Linked DNA regions of Homo sapiens: region 1 is linked to region 2. The links come from fine-mapping of genetic effects on gene expression. Tissue or cell type: unexposed skin. Region 2 holds a variant in brackets; the other region holds the start of a gene. All regions are shown on one strand. Distances are between the middles of the regions.

Region 1 (6,031 bases), 46 kb before region 2:
TCTCCCTAACCTTTATGTGTCCTCTTAGTAATTTTCCATCTGCTGACTTCCACCCTGTTGCTTAACTATAAATCTCCACCTGTCCTTGTATTTGATGTTAAGCCTGATTTTTTTGCCCCTATTGCATAATCCCTATTGCAGCTGTTCTTGAATAAAGTCTCTCACCTTAACAATTGTTTGAATAATTTTTCTTTTAGTGCCATTTCCTACTGTAACATGCTGTGTGAGTCTCAATTTTCTGATCCATATAATGGAGAAACTAATACTTCCATCTCCGAGGCATGGAGATCAACTGAAATTAAAAATAACTTGCATATGGCTGGGCAGGGTGGCACACACCTGCAATCCCAGCACTTTGGGAGGCCAAGGCGGGCAGATCACTTGAAGTCAGGAGTTTGAGACCACCCTGGCCAATATGGCGAAACCCCGTCTCTACTAAAAATACAAAAATTAGCCAGGTGTGGTGGTTCACGCCTGTAGTCTTAGCTACTTGGGAGACTGAGGCAGGAGAATCGCTTGAACTCAGGAGGTGGAGGTTGCAGTGAGCTGAGATCACACCACTGCACTCCAGCCTGGGCAAGAGAGTGAGACTCCATCTCAAAAAAATAAAAATAAAAATAAAAAACTTGGATAAAGTGTAAAGATAAAAATCACTATTCTTGGGCAGGGGTCCCAGCTGTAGCCCAAGCTGGAGAACTAGACTGGCTTGGCATTAATTTGCTTGGGGCAGGAGAAGGGTCATCTGAAAGATATGGGAAAAGCTGAGGTTGCCCCTGGGAAGACTAGGGAAGCCTGCCCCCGGGCCAGCCCCTTGAATATGTCCAACTGAGGAGGTGGAAAGAAGTTCAAGGTAGCCAGGGAGACAAAAGTTGTTCACTTTGGTGCACATGTGGAACCAACATGGGACAAACAGGCATTTTGTGCTCGTCCAGGGAACATGACTTCTTCGGCTCCCACACAATTTGTAGCTGCAGGAGTGGCAGAGCACCAGAGTGGATGCAGGCCCAGATGTTCTCTGGGTTAGGTGTTAAGGACTTGTGGGAGTCATCAGGCAGCAGGCATTTGCCCCAGTGTCAGAGGTGTTTAAGCCAGAATTACTCCATCTTGAATAAGGGCTGGGTAAAATGAGGCTGCATTCATAGGAGGTTAGGCATTCTAAGTCACAGGATGAGACAGAAGGTTGGCACAAGATACAGGTCATACAGACCTTGCTGATAAAACAGGTTGCAGTAAAGAAGCTGGCTAAACGCCACCAAAACCAATATGGCAATGGGAGGGACCTCTGGTGGTCCTCACTGCTCATTATGCACTAATTATAATGCATTAGCATGCTAAAAGACACTCCCACCAGCAAGCACCATGACAGTTTACAGACGCCATGACACCATCATGAAATACTCTATATGGTCTAAAAAGGGGAGGAAGCCTCAGTTCCGGGAACTGCCCACCCCTTTCTCTGAAACTCATGAATAATTCAACCCTTGTTTAGCATATAATCAAGAAATAACCAAAAAATGGGTAACCAGTAGCCCTGGAGCTGCTCTGCCTATGGAGTAGCCATCCTTTTACTTCTTTGCTTTCTTAATAAACTTGTTTTCACTTTACTCTATGGGCTTGCCCTGAATTCTTTCTTGCATGAGATCCAAGAACCCTCTCTTAGGGCCTGGATCGGGACCCCTTTCTGATAACACCAGGAGACACCCTGGGTGGATTTCCTGAACCGACCGATAGATGAGCCTTCCACGCGGGAGACCTGGATCCTTATCGTCTTTGTGGCCCCTTCCATCTGCACGTGCGGACGAGGTCCGGGTCGCACTCGGGCGGTCAGCCTGGCACGCACAGCGCCGGCGTGCAGGGGGCCTTGGGTGCCACCGAGTCCGGGAGGAAATCTAGGCCGCCATCCGTCCGGAGACTGGCACCTGTGACCACCACCCAACATGTATTGAACAAGGGCTTGGAGGTCCTTTCTCTAAGGCCGCACCGATAAACGATTACCGACTGTTGACCTCACGGCCCCTTCGCTTCCGGCCGCACCGCCTCGCTGCCCACGCCTGCGCACTCAGGCACCGCAGGTAGGAGGAACGTACCAACTGCGAGGCGGGGGGTGCGCGCGAAGACCCCCGCAGGCTGCGCTTCCGGAAGTAACCCCTGGCGCATCCCGGAATCCAGAGCGCCCACTACGGCCTTTGGCCAGGCCCCCTGGGCGCGTTCCGGGAGCTCAGGCCTGCGGCGCTGGGAGAAGCACGCTGGCCAACAAGTTGGGTGGTGGGCACGCGGCCCAGGGGTCAGGGGCCGCCAGGCGGCGGGCGGCGGGGCTGCGGCTCTTACCTGCCGAGGAGGCGCCGGCTCTGCGGTGCGGAGTTGCGCCGGACTTCCCAGCTTGGCCAGTGGCTCCGCAGGCTGCCGGCTCCACCCCTCAGGTAAGCGGGGACTGGGCCGCCGAGGTTCAGGGAAGGGGGCGGCTGTCGGGGCCCGTGCCGGCCCCGGGGGGCCACCTGCTGGGCCAGCGGTGCCCTCGCGCCGAAACACACTGGGAGAGGCCAGAATCTTCCGGAACAGCCAGCCCTTACCCATCTCTCCCTCTGTGCCGAGAACTGCCCTGAAATACTGTGGTATTAATTAACTCGTTTAACACTAACAATCTCATGAGGCGGGTGCTGTTACTATTCCCGTAATGTAGACGAGGAAACCGAGGCGTGTGCTGGAGCAGGATCACGGCCGTGCTCAGAGACGGGCTCTGGATGCCATGCTCTGACTCCATTGTTAGCCCTAAGCTTCCAGAAAGTAGCAGAGTGCTGCCGTGTCGTTTGTAACAGATCTCACTTTGTGTCATTTTTTTTGCACAGTATGAAACCTAATGATGCATGATTATTATTTAAAACATCTTGCTTAGACTTTATAAGTAGTCAAATTTGCGTGTGGGACAAAACCCCAAAACATGCAATGGCTTGCTCTCCTCTTTTCCTTTCACACGTTCATCTCCTCCTATCCCTTTCTCTCACCACCTTTCAATCTTCTCACAGATGTTGTGGAGGAAGATGAGACTTGAGGGCCCAGCAGGTGCTTAAAATCCCCTGCCTGGTGGGGGTGGAGTAGACACTCTGTCCCCCTGCAGTGCTGGAGTTGAGAGCAGAGGGGCTGGAGAGGGACTGGGCGGAGTGAGAAAGGCCTGGCATAATCATGGAATGCCCAGGGTGGGGTTCTACTTCTCTTGCAGGCACAAGAGAAGTAGAAGAGTGGCCGCTTTCCTTCTGGGCACGCACTTGGGAAAAGGCTTGGTGAGAGCAGCGAGAAGAATAGGTCTAATTTCTTGAGCCAGTGTGCGGAGGTGCTTCCCAGCCCAGGCTAAGCCAGATCACTCAGCCAGCCGCTGGCTGCCTTTACAGATGTACGGCTCCCCGTGAGCAATCAACATGCCTGGCTCTCAGGCATAAGCTGCCTCACTTCCCTTCTGCACAGCACTCCAGGACTTGCCTGCTACCAGACCCATCCTACTTTCTCTGTCAGGAAAAATGAGAGTTCTTCCTGGTCTCTTGAGGCCAATCCCTTCCACCGCCTGTGCCCTGGATCCCTTTCTCCAGGAAGCTTCTCTTCCCTGTGTAGTTAGCCTCCCCGCTCTTCCCAGGTCACCTTCTCTCTGTTTAGGGACAGAGCCAAGCCTTTTCCCTCCCATCCCCACCTCCAGCATTCCCGGTTCCTGCTTCTCCCCCACTTCCTGCTGTACCGCCCACTGAAGGGACCTTTGACCCCGCTGACCACTGCTTTTGGAAAGTCTTTTCTTGGTTTCCCTAACTTCACTTTACTTTGGTTTTTCCTTGTCTCTCCCCTCTGCCTCTCAGTCACCTTTGAGATCTGCTCATCCTCTCACCTCCCTGTATTGTCAGCATTACCTGGGCAGCCCCCTCTGGTGTTTTCCTTCAGTTTCTCTAGAAACTTGCCTGAAGATTTGCCCCAAAATAGCCCACATGGACCTGTATGAGGAAAGAGGCTCACTGTGGAGGCGCTCTCCATCATTCCTCCTCTTCCACTTGAGGCTTAGGCATGGGCCACCTCCTGAACAGCTCTCCCCACAGTCTCCTCCATGCATTGTGCCATCACCCCGCCCTGCCGTCACCCCGGCCTGGCCCGCTTTCCCTTTTGCCTCCCAGGGATGTGCCTGCTTCCCATGTGGCCTGGCTAGGGCGCTTTCCTGACTGCTGCCCACATGATCGACTATGGGCAGGCGTGCAGCCCAAAAGGCCGTGCTTCAGCTTAGAAGCCCTTGGAATCTTGTCTTGTTGTGGTTGTAGGCCTCCAATGTGTTGTCAGCTGTGGTGATGTGTGTCACAAGTAACTTCTTTTTTTTGAGACAGGGTCTGGCTCTGTTGCTCAGGCTGGAATGCAGTGGTGCAATCACGGCTCACTGCAATCTCCACTTCCCTGCTCAAGCCATCTTCCTGCCTCAGACTGCCAAGAAGCTGGGACCACAGGCACAGGCCATCACAGCTGGCTGATTTTTTTGTATTTTTTTTGTAAAGACAAGGTTTCGCCATCTTGCCCAAGCTGGTCTCAACCCCCTGAGTTCAAAGCAGTCCACCCACCTTGGCTTCCCAAAGTGCTAGGATTACAGGCGTGAGCCACCACACCTGGCCACAAGTAACTTCTTAGTTATAAAGTACTGAAATTTATCAATGACTTTCTTTTTAAAATTTACGTTTTAGATTCATTTGGATTCAAGGTTGGCTCTCAACAGTGCCAGCTGCACTGTCATCCTAAAGTACTTCTGTGGAAGAGAACATGGTGGTGTCACTGTTGTACCAGTGATGACACAAAATCCCAGATCTACCTGACGGGCCTGCGAGGGTTGAAGATTGTGAAGCAATAGCCTAAGGTAAACAACACCTTGCAAGACGGGTCTAAGCTCTTCAGTGTAATAGACCCTGTTTCTCAGTAGGTCAGCCCGGGGGCCCCCCAGGGATCCCTCCCCGCCTCATAGCACCATACCCCACTTTCCCCCTGGTCTAATGATGAGCCCATTTCTAGGTTGTCGTCTCATCCTGAGCCCCAAGTGCCAGCCAGGCAGCTACTCTCCTCTGTTCATATCTTGAAGGCAGAGTGCTGGCTCATAGTAGACATTTGATGAATTTCTGTTAAATGATTGAGTGAATCAAGAGTATCTGCAGAGTATAGCATTTATGATGAGACAAAGCTAATTGGGAAACAGAACAAGATTGGTGTCCTGGGGTAACTGGGTAGGTCTTAAGATGAAGATTTTGGGGTGTGCTGGGTGCAGTGGCTCACACCTGTAATCCCAATACTTTGGGAGGCTGAGGCAGGGGGATTGCTTGATCCCAGGAGTTCAAGACCAGCTTGGGCAACATGGTGAAATCCCGTCTCTACAGAAAACACAAAAATTAGCTGGGTGTGGTGGTGCACATCTGAAGTCCCAGCTACTTGGGAGGCTGAGTTTGGGAGGATTACTTGAGCCCAGGAGGCAGAGGTTGCAACAAGGTAGATCATGCCACTGTACTCCAGCCTGGGTGACAGAGCAAGACCCAGTCTGAAAAAAAAAAAAAAAAAATACTTTGGAGGGTGACCCCGTTCTGCAGATGGCCTCTGGAGGCCTGGATGTTCACACTCTGGGGTTGCAGTTTCCTCAATCATGAAGTGAGAGTTAAGTCCCCTCCAGTGTGACATCCAAGAGCAGTTGTGGGCCCAGGACAGCAGCCTGTGTTTCCTTTGCAGCTTTACCTAGCCCCTACACAAGCGCCACCTTGCAGTAGGCCTTCAGTTCTTGGATTTATTGGTGGCTGAAAGTTCTTGCGAGATGGACTTGAAGTTGTTGCCACTTAACCCTTCTGAGGTTCTTCTGGCTGGGAGGAGCTCCTCTTTCTGGCCAGAGTCTTGCTTGAGCCTTCTTAGCCATCTCGTCACCTGTTATAGGCAGCCCTGCCATCTCTGGTGACCCTTTTTAAACATTACCCTGGTGAGTAATGTTTAGCATCACTCATTGTCAGATCTTTTTTATCTTTTTTTTTTTTTGAGTTTCAGT
Region 2 (7,322 bases):
AAATAAAACAAAACTTTCTTATGCTCGCTTCAGCAGCACATAGACTAAAGCAAAACTTTCTCACATCAACAACTGAAAAGGTAGGCCGGATGCAGTGGTTCACATCTGTAATCCCAACACTTTGGGAGGCTGGGGCGGGAGGATCGTTTGAGACCAGCCTGGGCAACACAGTGAGACCCCATCTCTACAGAAGAAAAACATTAAAATAAAATAATTAGCTGGATGTGGTGATGTGATCCTGTAGTCCCAGCTACTCAGAGGCCGAGGTGGGAGGATTGCTTGAGCTCAGGAAGTCCTGGCTTCAGTGAGCCATGATAGTGCTACTGCACTCCAGCTCTGGTGACAGAGTGAAACCCTGTCTCAAAAAAAAAAAAAAAAAAAGTTAACAAGTACGAGGAAACACGTCTGCAACAAACATGACAAGTCTTTAATACCTGTACTTTATGAGTGCCCCCCAAACAATAAACCAACTCCCCAACTTTTAAAATGGGCAAATAGAAAAGTGGGCAAATGGACATAAACAAATTCACAAGAGAAAATAAAACTGGCAAAAAATAACCATGTGAAAAAACAATCCAGCTAACTAGTACTCTAAGAAATGCAAGTACAAAAGATGAGAAATAACCATTTCAAACTAAATTTTTTTTTTAAAAAAGTCTGTGTTGTCAAGTATATGGAAAATGGGCATTTCTCAGGGAAAACTAATACGTTTTCCTGGAAGATAATTTAGAAAACATTTAAAAAATATATTCCTTTTATACAGCCATAAATAATCATGTTTAAAAGAATATCTAATAAAATGGAAGAAAATTCACAAGATCGTGTTAAGTGAAGAAGGCAGAATACATCTTCGCAAGGCATTATTCCAATTATGCCAGACATGCCATGGATATACGTAGAGAAAACACCGGAGGCAACATACCAAAATATTAAATGTAATTGACTCTACGAGGTAAAACTGAGTTTTATGTTCCCCTATTTCCTATTTATGCAATAGATTTAAAAAGTATTTTTACGACTAATTATACAATTCAAAAATTGCCTGTGTTGAAAAGCATGAAAGTACATGAAATTGTACTACCCTGGAAACCCCAGGAAGTGTTTAGTTTGGAAAGCCAGGGCCACCTGCTAGTGGGTGAGTCATGGGCACAGGCTCGCACCTGCCACCGCAGACGCCACACAGGCTGCTGAGCCTTTCCAAGCGAAATGCCCCACGTGCGCCAACGGCCACCTCGGCCGTCGCCCCACGCTTGGCCCGCAGCCAGAGGAAGCCCAGCAACTTCTGCTCTTTCTTAATTTCTAGAAAAGAGTGAAGAGAGGCCTTTTCAAAGTTCGCAGGATCGGGCCTTTTTGTGCTCCACTTTGGAACAAATCGGAAGCTAGGGCCTTCCAGGTGCGCCACCGCCGTCCCGGGACCGCCGCGGCCGCAAGCGTCCGCACTGCGGCCGGGGTGCGCGGCCTGAGAAAGGCCCGGGCAACGACGCTCCGGGGGCTTGCCGGAGCCCTCTTTGAAGTCTCCCGACGGGCTCCCAGCCTCTCATAAGGCAGCTAAGGCCGAACACCCCGGTGACCATAGGCCAGCCACGCGGTCGCCCGGGGACGCGCGTGCTCCGCAGGGACAAAGGGTCGGGAAACTTGAGCTCCGGCCAGTCCCAGAGAAACCCGGGCTGGTGGTCGCCATGGCAACGGAGTCCGACCCTCCGAGGCCTGCCGCCCTGGCGCGGCAGTGGCTTGAGTGACCCGGCCCGCTCTTGGCGGGGGCGCCCGCGCCCCGGCCCCGGCAGTCCCTCCCCGCCCCCAGGCCGCGGCCGCGGGAGCCGGCGACTGACCCTCGGCAGCTCCTGTAGTCACGTGGCGCTGGGAACCCGGCGGGGGGAGGTTGGGGACGGGCCTGGCAGTTGTGAACTCGAACCTGCCGCTGTCGCCGCGGCGGGGCGGGGAGCGAGAGTGGGCCGCGGAGGCCGGCCTTCGGGCTCCATGGACGGGCGCCGCGTCCCTGCACAGCCCGCCGCAGAGGTACGGCCGGGGCAGGGGCGCGGGGCCACCGCGGGCCCGCGGGGGGCCGCTCCACCTGCGGGGCGCGTGACCGTGAGTGTGCGCGACCGTGTGTGAGTGCGCGGGGGGGGACGCTGCTGGATCTGCGGGGGTGGGGGAGCGCACCTGCGCACAGGCTCCGCGAGCTGCGCCGTGCGTGGGACCCGAAATGGCTCACTCGCAAGAACGGGACCCGTGTGCCCGGGAGCGTGGACGGAGGACACGCATCAGTACAAAAGGGCGGTGTGGGGCTTCTGCCACCCGCGGCCAGCCGCGATGCGGAAGGGGATTCTGACGGAGTCGTGGTCACACCAGCTGGCCCTGCGCAGCCCCATGGGAAATAGGCCTGGAATTCCTGTCGGGAGGAGGCTGGGGGAAGGGGAGCCAGCAGGGATTCCAGAGTTCCTGCCATAGGCCGGCCTTTGGCCATCAGGGAAAGCCCAGACTCTGGCCACAGAATGGAGAATTCGTTCCGTGACCTTACCAGGGAAGAAAGTGACCCCGAAAGACAGCAGTGTGCTTCCTTGTTGAAGGGGCACATTCATTTATTAATCCAATGTCCATTAAGGTCACTCTGCCAGGCAGGATGTGGGGCTTATGGCTGGTGCGTGTGGCTTTGTGGGGGGAGGGGTTGTGGCTGGTGAGGACACAAAGCTGACTGCCCTAGAGGAGCTCAGAGCCTCACTTCTGTTTTCTCTTCCCTCCCCACAGGTAAGGCTGGCCTCTCTGCAGTCAGAGGTCTGAGCTCTGCCATGGGGATAGGGGTGTCTTTATTACTGCAGTTTTCTCTAACACCTGGGGGCTACCGGAGTGTGGGCCGAAGCAGGCGCTGCAGCCGCGGAAGTATCCCCAGGAACATCCCCAAGAGGAGCTGGAAAAAGCCTCATCCCCAGCTCTGCAGTCTCCAGGGTAGAGTCTGGCCTTTGCTGTGCTCCCAAACCACGCCACAACAGGGGTGCACGGGCGTCCCCATCCCGGCGGAAGGAAATGGCCCTTTCTCATATCCTGGGGTCTTCCCTGTGCACAGTCTGACACTGGGAATGAGTGACCTTTGTGTTCCCTGAGAAGAGAGAGTGCGCTCTAGGGAATTTAGAAGGATGTGTCTGGAGCTTGTGAGCAGGCACAGAAGGGCCCTTAGGAGCCTAACTGCTTCCTTCCTCCTTCCGCGGAGGAGGCTCCTGTGCAGGAATCTGGGCTCCCCTGAGCTGTGGAAGAGCTGAACATGGGGCAGCCCCTGGCGAGGTTGGGGCAGGACCGGGCAGGGGACTGAGATTGCAGTCTCATCTTCCCTCCCCTTCTATTGCCCCAGTAATCTCCAGCACCCCGAGGGAGGCAGAGCCGGTGATCAGGCCCCGAGGGCAGCAGGCTGTGGGTGTTCCTTGGATTCAGGGAGAGC[C/A]TTCCTTCCTGCAATGTCCTAATTTGTGTGGGTGGAAGAGGGCAGGCGGGCAGAATGGGGGCACAGTCTGGGCAGGCGGTGGTCTGGCGTTAGACTGCCGGGAGTAGCACCCAGGGCTCTGCTCCTGTTCCCCGAGAAGGGCTGTTCTCACTTGTCCTCCAGCCTCCTACGGAGACTGCAGTTAGTGATGCTGAAAGTGCCTCCCCTGTGGGGCTAGGAATGAAAAGCTATAGACACCTTTTTCTCTGAGATCTTTGCAAACCCAGGCGCTTTAGAGGAAAGAACACTGGCCTGGGAGTTTAAAGACCTGTTCCCTAGTCTTGATTCTGCTGTTGGCTTACTGTGTCACCTTGGGCAGGTCTCGTCATCTTTGATGTCTCACAGTTGCTTCATCTGTTAAACAGGGAGCTCAGTGTCTGTTTGTCCAGCTTCTCAGAGTTGCTGTGCAGCTCGGATGTGGCATAGGAAACAGCAGACACAGGGAGAGGGCAGCATAAGGCACTGTAGGGAGCAGTGGCCACATTTTCTGGTGAGTCCTGTGGCAGGAATGTTTGTGCATTCAGCACTGGAGCATTTACTCCCTGTCTGACACTGGGGTAGCTGCCATGAGGGGGATTCTAGTATCAGAGTCCCTCCCTTCTGGAAGTTTCCAGGGCAACAAAGACATAAGACAAACATCCTTGAAATGTTATCTAAAAACCCAAGATTGAAATAATACATACCACACAAGGAAACAGGAGAGTAGTCTAGCTCCATGTCCGGGGCTCTAGGGGTTCATAGATGGCAGCTCCTGTCCGGGGCTGAGGTTGGGAGGGGAGAAACAGGGGCAGAGTGAGTTGGTCTCTGGAGTGACTGTGCTTTTCCACCCTCAGCAGAGGAAGAACCGATGCTGGAACGTCGTTGCAGGGGCCCCCTGGCCATGGGCCTGGCCCAGCCCCGACTCCTTTCTGGGCCCTCCCAGGAGTCACCCCAGACCCTGGGGAAGGAGTCCCGCGGGCTGAGGCAACAAGGCACGTCAGTGGCCCAGTCTGGTGCCCAAGCCCCAGGCAGGGCCCATCGCTGTGCCCACTGTCGAAGGCACTTCCCTGGCTGGGTGGCTCTGTGGCTTCACACCCGCCGGTGCCAGGCCCGGCTGCCCTTGCCCTGCCCTGAGTGTGGCCGTCGCTTTCGCCATGCCCCCTTCTTAGCACTGCACCGCCAGGTCCATGCTGCTGCCACCCCAGACCTGGGCTTTGCCTGCCACCTCTGTGGGCAGAGCTTCCGAGGCTGGGTGGCCCTGGTTCTGCATCTGCGGGCCCATTCAGCTGCAAAGCGGCCCATCGCTTGTCCCAAATGCGAGAGACGCTTCTGGCGACGAAAGCAGCTTCGAGCTCATCTGCGGCGGTGCCACCCTCCCGCCCCGGAGGCCCGGCCCTTCATATGCGGCAACTGTGGCCGGAGCTTTGCCCAGTGGGACCAGCTAGTTGCCCACAAGCGGGTGCACGTAGCTGAGGCCCTGGAGGAGGCCGCAGCCAAGGCTCTGGGGCCCCGGCCCAGGGGCCGCCCCGCGGTGACCGCCCCCCGGCCCGGTGGAGATGCCGTCGACCGCCCCTTCCAGTGTGCCTGTTGTGGCAAGCGCTTCCGGCACAAGCCCAACTTGATCGCTCACCGCCGCGTGCACACGGGCGAGCGGCCCCACCAGTGCCCCGAGTGCGGGAAGCGCTTTACCAATAAGCCCTATCTGACTTCGCACCGGCGCATCCACACCGGCGAGAAGCCCTACCCGTGCAAAGAGTGCGGCCGCCGCTTCCGGCACAAACCCAACCTGCTGTCTCACAGCAAGATTCACAAGCGATCCGAGGGGTCGGCCCAGGCCGCCCCCGGCCCGGGGAGCCCCCAGCTGCCAGCCGGCCCCCAGGAGTCCGCGGCCGAGCCCACCCCGGCGGTACCTCTGAAACCGGCCCAGGAGCCGCCGCCAGGGGCCCCGCCAGAGCACCCGCAGGACCCGATCGAAGCCCCCCCCTCCCTCTACAGCTGCGACGACTGCGGCAGGAGCTTCCGGCTGGAGCGCTTCCTGCGGGCCCACCAGCGGCAGCACACCGGGGAGCGGCCCTTCACCTGCGCCGAGTGCGGGAAGAACTTCGGCAAGAAGACGCACCTGGTGGCGCACTCGCGCGTGCACTCCGGCGAGCGGCCCTTCGCCTGCGAGGAGTGCGGCCGCCGCTTCTCCCAGGGCAGCCATCTGGCGGCGCATCGGCGCGACCACGCCCCCGATCGGCCCTTCGTGTGTCCCGACTGCGGCAAGGCCTTCCGCCACAAACCCTACCTGGCGGCGCACCGGCGCATCCACACCGGCGAGAAGCCCTACGTCTGCCCCGACTGCGGCAAAGCCTTCAGCCAGAAGTCCAACCTGGTGTCGCACCGGCGCATCCACACGGGCGAGCGGCCCTACGCCTGTCCCGACTGCGACCGCAGCTTCAGCCAGAAGTCCAACCTCATCACCCACCGCAAGAGCCACATCCGGGACGGCGCCTTCTGCTGTGCCATCTGTGGCCAGACCTTCGACGACGAGGAGAGACTCCTGGCCCACCAGAAGAAGCACGATGTCTGAGACGGTGGGCGGGGCCGTGTTGGCTGAGAGAGGGCTGGGGTCCTTCGTGGTGGGAGTCGCAGTGGGCTGGGGGTGCCTGCCTAGTGCTGGAGTAGGGGACAATGGGAATCCTAGAGGGGATGGAAGACGCGGGGAGTGAGCTGGGTGGGCCCTGCTAGCGAGAGAGGTCAACCCCGGTGGCCAGGGAACCCACTTCCAAGCGCAGGGACGCCGGCCTCCAGCTGGTGTGTGCTAAGGCTCCGTCCTGACTGCCCTGTGCCCTGGAAAAGCAGCAATAGCATCCGCCCCTTAGAGCCCTCTGGCTAGAGGAGCCACCAGTGGAAAGGAAGACCCTCCATCCTCTGGTATTAACGCCTTAATGCCCCTGTCTTTTACTGTAAGTTACTTAAGATCATTTTTGGAAGCAGGCGTGGTAGAGTCCTGTAAATGAATGCTCTGGGCTAGATACAGCTTGGAGAACCTGCTGGCCTTGTTAGACAGCACTTGGGCCTTTGCCAGCAGCAAGAGGTGAAGCGAAGCCACTCTTACCTCTCCCTTCCCCTCCCACCTGCCCCCTGCGTAGGCACCCAGACTTGGAGAGACCCGTCTGCTGTTAATACTTCCATCCTCTTCCTTCCCAAAGAGCAGATCCCAAGGCATTTACTCCTTGGTCTGTCTCGCTTTATCTGTCGCCCCTCCCAGCGCTGAGAGCCTCCCCTGGCTGTCAGCAGCACTGTGTCCAGGCTCTTGTCTGAACACCGCAGCCCCTCCTTCGCTCCTTCCAGAGCTCAGCATGTCACGGCAAGGACTGCCGCATTGGTGATGGAGGGCCAGCTGAGGGGAAGTTGCTGGTGAGTTTCCTTTTCTCCATTTCTAGCATATGGACACCTGGCCTCTGCTTGAGCACTTAGGTGACAGGAACTTCCGCACCTCCTGAGGCCCTGGATGATTCTAATTGTTAGAAATTCTAATTGTTAGAAATCCTTCCTTATAATGAATGAATTCTGCTTTCCTATAATTTCTACCTATTGGGCCTTGTTCTGTTCTCTGGAACTAAACAGAACAACCATTTACCCCTCCTTTTCAAACTAGAGAATAAAGATTTGGTTTTAGAACTGGTGGCTGGGGAGTGTTACTTTTTCTGGGGGAGCTGCGACATGTCAGGAGGAGCAGCATGCTCTCCTCCCTAGAAGGACGGGGGGCTGTGGGTGGGGCTCTGGCCACAGGCCACATGCCCAGCTTGCTGAGCTCTGGCCCCCTGCCTCAGTTCTTCCCTGAGCATACCCAGGCAGTTGGGCTAATTCTCTGGGTGGTGGGCCGAAG

Evidence for each region. PIP is the estimated chance that this variant, and not a neighbour inherited with it, causes the effect.
Region 1: it holds the start of LRRC61, and the variant in region 2 is fine-mapped to the expression of LRRC61 in unexposed skin (GTEx, PIP 0.96).

What each region holds. Positions count from the first base shown.
Region 1 is chr7:150,321,141-150,327,171 of GRCh38, forward strand. LRRC61 (leucine rich repeat containing 61) reads left to right here and starts at 2,215. Exons shown (of 3, transcript NM_001142928.2): 1 at 2,215-2,420; 2 at 4,701-4,870. ACTR3C (actin related protein 3C) reads right to left here and starts at 2,405. Exons shown (of 8, transcript NM_001164458.2): 1 at 2,329-2,405. RefSeq lists enhancers at 1,435-1,544, 1,595-1,654, 2,975-3,044 and a silencer at 2,265-2,584.
Region 2 is chr7:150,366,926-150,374,247 of GRCh38, forward strand. It overlaps REPIN1 (replication initiator 1), which reads left to right and starts at 1,897. Exons shown (of 3, transcript NM_001099695.2): 1 at 1,897-2,016; 2 at 2,746-2,943; 3 at 4,303-7,114. The coding sequence starts at 2,787. The coding sequence ends at 6,020. It overlaps REPIN1-AS1 (REPIN1 antisense RNA 1), which reads right to left and starts at 6,018. Exons shown (of 4, transcript NR_183429.1): 1 at 5,916-6,018; 2 at 4,153-4,230; 3 at 3,780-3,931. RefSeq lists enhancers at 1,371-1,430, 1,470-2,274, 2,275-3,080, 3,081-3,885, 6,413-6,532 and 1 more and silencers at 1,681-2,150, 2,661-2,810. The variant C/A (reference allele first, on the strand shown) is at 3,431.